Regions from separate parts of the Homo sapiens genome. Here region 2 is linked to region 1. Evidence: fine-mapped expression QTL. Tissue or cell type: whole blood. Region 1 holds a variant in brackets; the other region holds the start of a gene. All regions are shown on one strand. Distances are from middle to middle.

Region 1 (2,757 bases):
TGTCTGTGGCAGGGAAGCAGTTGTTGTGTCTCCGGAGGGGCCGGCTGGGCACAGGGGGGCCGGAGGAGCAGAAGAGTTGGCTCCTCTTGGCGGATGCTGCATGGGGATGGGGTCAGAGGGGACAGCACACATCATGATGGTAAGTCCTGGTCTGTTTTCAACTCCAGAGACACTCAGAAAGGATTTGGAATGCTGCCTTTCCAGTGGGACTCTTGGTTAGACTCATGACTCCAGTGTTAAACTCCCAGATGCCTGCACTGGTATAATATAGCCCTTCGGCCTTCTGGTGAGCTGGGATTCGATGGGCTGCCCACATCCTGCACCTCCACTCCCCCACCTCACCCCAAAGTCCACTTCCTCTATGAAAACCACCCTTCACAATGAAACACTTGCCAAGGAACTGCTTGAATCGTGCTGTGGTCAAGGACGCCTTTATCTGAAGTGAGCCCCATCACTATTCCCAAAAGGATTAAGTATAGTTGCCCAAAGCCCAGTGATGTAAATATTAGAAATGGGAACCCACACCCAGGCAGTAGGGGCTTTTGTTTTTGAAGGGGATGCTGGCTTCCTAGGAATGGCCAAAGCATACCTGCATCTCAGAAGCCTGAGCCAGCGGGAAGTGATTAACCCCTGGGTTACTCAGCTCGAAGCCTGTCATTCCCATGATTTGTTTTCCTGCTATCTTCACACAAAGCACTCCTTTCCAGAACACTCCGGGACTGTCTGCCTAGCACCTTCCGGAGAAATTAAAAAGAGCAAAGGCAGAATAATTTGCCTAAGAATAGGAATGTCAAGAAAATGTGCCTCAACAAAGAGTTGCTAGGCTCAAATCCTGGCCAAACTGTTCATCTCTCTTCAGTTGTTAACCCTCTACTTGAAAACTTCCTATCCGCCATGCCTCCTTTTTCTGGCTTTCGTTCTTCCCTTCTGGCTACAATTTTTTGTTACTCTAATCTCTTGTTCTGCTCACTTTCTCTCAGACACAGAGCTTCCATATTGTCTTCTAGTAACTAAAATTATGAAAGTTAAGATTCATAATTTTGCCTACAAGACAAATTGTATTTCCATTTAAGAATGTTTTACAGTATTTTGGGGACTGTATTTTGGGCTCAGATGGGCCGGAGGAGTAGAAGAGTCAGCTCCTCTTGGCAGATGCTCTGTGGGGCTGGGGGCTGAGAAGCCAGCAAACATCATGATGGCAAATCCTGGTCTGTTTTCAAGGTTGGGGGTTATAGGACAATACAGACAAAGTATAATAGACGTCTTGCCCTCAAGGAGTCTATGGAAGCAACTGAATATGTGCACAAAC[G/A]CACTAAAAAATAATAAAACAGGATATGATTACATGGCAAATAGACAGTAAATGATACAAGACTGCATGGAAACAGATGTCATGCCCCCTTCCTGGTAGATTTCTAACCATCTAAAACCAGTAGAAAAGGCTCTCCTGGGCATGCTCTATAATTTTCTCAGGGGTACTCCAGCCACAGGCAAATCACCACTCACCCCGGCCTCTCAAATCTTAGAAACAAGAGCTCTGCTAGTTTAAAAATGCTTTGGTTTTACTACTTACTCTGGCTACGAAATTTTTTGTTCATAATTGTAGCTTTTTTCTACCAAATTCTCATTTTAAAATCCTCCCCTCTTACCCACCTCTCATTCCTTGCTGTAGGCCATGTAGTTGTGTTCTGTTTGTTTGTTTGTTTGTTTGTTTGTTTTTAAACTTTTGGTCTTACCATACCTTTGCTTTAATCCTAGAGCATCTGTTAAGCTTTAAAGGAAAGAGCATAAATGAATGCACACATATACTCTTAGAGCCTATAAAATCAGCTTCCTACTCCACCAGGGAGGTCTGAAGGAGCCTTTGGTTTCTGGTAAAGCAAATGGATGAGGATCGCCGCTAACATTCACTTCTCCCACGAGAAGCCTCCCCAGGCTGATTGCTATAGTCGCTAGTGCAGACAGCGACCTGATCTGCTCAGGCTGCCAGACTTCAGAAGCCTCAGCCAGGTTCAGAGCCTCCCTAATCCTAATGGGCTAGGAGCCCTGGGTGTCTCCAGATAACCCATTTTCCAGCCTTCCAAGAAAGAGGAGTAGTGGGGCAGTGGGCGAGAGAGAATTGGGTTTCAGTGCTGTTTTAATGTAAACTGCTGGGGGCTGGGAGCTCCCCTTTTGCTCTCCTTGTTTTGGTTCCTACCCCAGAAACATAAAGTATTACTGATAAACATGGATAATTAAATTTGGATAAAAACTACTTGAACCTGAAGAGTTCATTCCAATTTGTATAACAGCAATTGATGTGGGTTGTGTATTTAAAGGAATATTTAAATTTCATGCAGCAATTTGCAAGTTCAAATGAAAAGCTATTTGGCACATTTGGATACTGGGTTGCAAGGGAAATAAGCAAAATGTACACATGAGGTACATGCCATCATATAATTGTGTACATTTTTTATTTGTCACAAAGCATTATAAAAACAATAGAGAAAAACTATGAAGGAAAAAAAAGGTCACCACTGGGAAAAAAAAAAACTTATTTTCCATATGTTTTGCCTGTGTGTTTATGGAAGGCTTTTTATTCAAAATTTTGGTTTTTATTCAAAAAACTTTGCATAAACATCTTCCTGTGTTGCTTCACCTAGTCTTCTGGTTAATGTGCCATAATTTGTTCTCCTCTTTTTGATCACTGGGTTTTTCTAATTTTTTGTTCTCACAACTAGGACTGATGGGAGATTTTTTTGTAATACAGATATTTTCTGA
Region 2 (2,619 bases), 35 kb before region 1:
GTCAGATCTAATGTTCTGACCATTAGGTCAGTGTATCTTTTCCCTCCTGGGCAGTTAGGTTAGTGGAAGAAACCCGATAAAATCTTGGAGAGGAATTTGATCATTCTCTGAAGGACTTACAAGTTGTTTGGCCTGCCTAATCTGCTCAGATACCGTCCGGGGAATATTTGGTAACCATGCAGTACAGACTGTGAATTATTCTGTGGGGACTATTAACAAGACCCTCACCAACCCTGCCTCAGCTGATCTCAGGGCTTGGGGGCAGCCCCCTCTCCTCCCCTCCCACTGAAGCTCTGAAAAAAAGCAGCCTTTCCCCCTTGGGAGATGGGAGGAGTAGTTAAAAATAAGAAGTGTTGGGGGAAATCCTCCTCCTTCCAAGCACAGCTCACACGGCAGAGCCTCCTCAGAGTTGCGGCTGCGGATGCAATGACTTAGCCAGGTTAACGCCGATCCCATGTTTTCCGAAACCTGGCACCTAAGCATCTAACATGGAAGGCCGACTCCCTAAAATCAGTGCAAGAAAAATGATAACAAGTTATATCTGGAGGGACCTCGGGGATTATCTACCCGCTGGATTTAAAGTTGAGGAAGCCGCGGGCAGCAAACAAGGTCTCACAGTTGCTGGTGGCAGAGTAGAGACCACAGACCAAATTGCCTGAGTCTAAACTCAATGTTCTTTCCCCTTAGACTGCCACCCGCACACACACGCACACATGCACACCTTTTTGGAGGCACTGCACAGCAAGCACAGAAGTACGCCACTGAGTCCTGTGTCCCTAAAGTATTTGACTGTCCCTCCGCTGGGGGAAAGGGCAGGCAGAAAACAAGACTCCGTGTGCTGTCGCTGTGCCGCCCCCTGCCTCTCTGACCCGCGCCCGCAGAGAAAGTCTCAAGAGCCGCCCCAGGCTTTCTCCCACGTTCTCCCTTTCTCTGCTGCAGTTGAGTTTCCAGAGCGTGAGCGCGCAGGATGACACCTGGCTGGCTGAGAGCTGCCGGGGAGGCGCTGGCGGGTGCCGAGAGCGCACTGACCCTGACGCGGGGTGCAGCACGGCTGGGAAGCCCCCGGGCCTTTGGCTAAGCGCGCCGGGGGACGGCACAGGGGGGCGACGCGCATCCACCACCTGGTCCGCGCTCTCCCGGCCTCCGGCAGCTCAGGGCGGGCTCGGTTGGGGACCCTAATGGCTGGGTGCCGGCCCTGGGAGAAGGGCACGCGGAGGGCGGAGGGTTGCGCCTCGGCCCCGGCTCGGCCCCAACGCCCTCTCCCTGGCGCGCAGGTTTAGAAACAGGGCGGCCTCTCCGGCCGCCGCCTCGGCGGCTCGGGTCCCCATATATAGTCATATCCACCGTCAACTGGGAGGCCGGCGGCCGGCAGCGAATGGGCGAGCGGCCCCCGCGGGAGGAGCGGGGAGGGGGCACGGGGCGGAGGGAGGAGAGGAGGAAGGGGGGCAGGAGAAAAAAGCTTTTCCAAAAAAGTATTGGCTGTCTTGAGGAATGCGGTCGCCCCCTTGGGAAAGTACATATCTGGGAGAAGCAGGCGGCTCCGCGCTCGCACTCCCGCTCCTCCGCCCGACCGCGCGCTCGCCCCGCCGCTCCTGCTGCAGCCCCAGGGCCCCTCGCCGCCGCCACCATGGACGCCATCAAGAAGAAGATGCAGATGCTGAAGCTCGACAAGGAGAACGCCTTGGATCGAGCTGAGCAGGCGGAGGCCGACAAGAAGGCGGCGGAAGACAGGAGCAAGCAGGTCTGCGCCTCCCCGGCCCTGCGCCCGCGCCCAGAGCGCCGGGACTCGAGCCTGGCACCCCCGGCTGGATCCCCACCCCGAGGACTCGGGGAGCCACCACCCTACCCCCACCACCACCCAGGGCGGCCAGGGCGCGCGTCTGGAAAGAAGGAAGGGAAACGCAAGAGCCAGGCTTAGTCTAACTTAGTCTGGTCTGAGGACGCTTATTTCCCTTCTCTGGTTCCCATGGCCCGCGAAATCAAGTCCTAGAGGCGCTTTATTCTCAGGACTGGGAATCAGTTTGGGGGAGGGAGGAGGACACCCGGTTCCTGGGGACGTTTGAAGGAAGGGCGAGGGATGGAGAAAGGGGGTCGAGTAACTCAAGTGTTAGAAGTTCGTTGACTTTTGACTGGGGAGAAAGGAACCTTAAACTTGGGGAGGAGAAGGGAGTCCTGGAGTTGTTACCTAAGAACAAAGATGGGGCGGAATGGAGGCTACAGCCCGAAAGCCAGGCCAGCAGTGGCGTTCTTCTGTGTCCCCAAGTAGTGGACTTGAGCCCGCTGAGACCTCGGCAGGAGTCTCGTCCCAGGGCAGGTGGGTGTGCGGGGTGAGCCGCGGAGCGGTTCCAGCTCGGGTAAAGAGGAAGTTACCTCGGGTCCTTTGCACTCCAACTCGGCGGCGCCCCGAGCCCGAGGGGCCCCAGCCAACCCGACGCCCGTGTGTTGTGTGTGTCTAACACCCGGTCCGTGCCGGCCGCCCGCGCCCGCCCGCCGCTGCCCCCAGCTCGAGGAGGACATCGCGGCCAAGGAGAAGTTGCTGCGGGTGTCGGAGGACGAGCGGGACCGGGTGCTGGAGGAGCTGCACAAGGCGGAGGACAGCCTCCTGGCCGCCGAAGAGGC

What was found. PIP is the estimated chance that this variant, and not a neighbour inherited with it, causes the effect.
Region 2: it holds the start of TPM1, and the variant in region 1 is fine-mapped to the expression of TPM1 in whole blood (INTERVAL, PIP 0.95).

The regions. Positions count from the first base shown.
Region 1 is chr15:63,076,170-63,078,926 of GRCh38, forward strand. No RefSeq gene overlaps it. Among named protein-coding and RNA genes, the nearest start is that of TPM1-AS, 28 kb to the left of the region's middle. RefSeq lists an enhancer at 2,581-2,757. The variant G/A (reference allele first, on the strand shown) is at 1,310.
Region 2 is chr15:63,041,203-63,043,821 of GRCh38, forward strand. TPM1 (tropomyosin 1) reads left to right here and starts at 1,545. Exons shown (of 10, transcript NM_001018005.2): 1 at 1,545-1,741. The coding sequence starts at 1,628. RefSeq lists enhancers at 489-1,403, 2,317-2,619.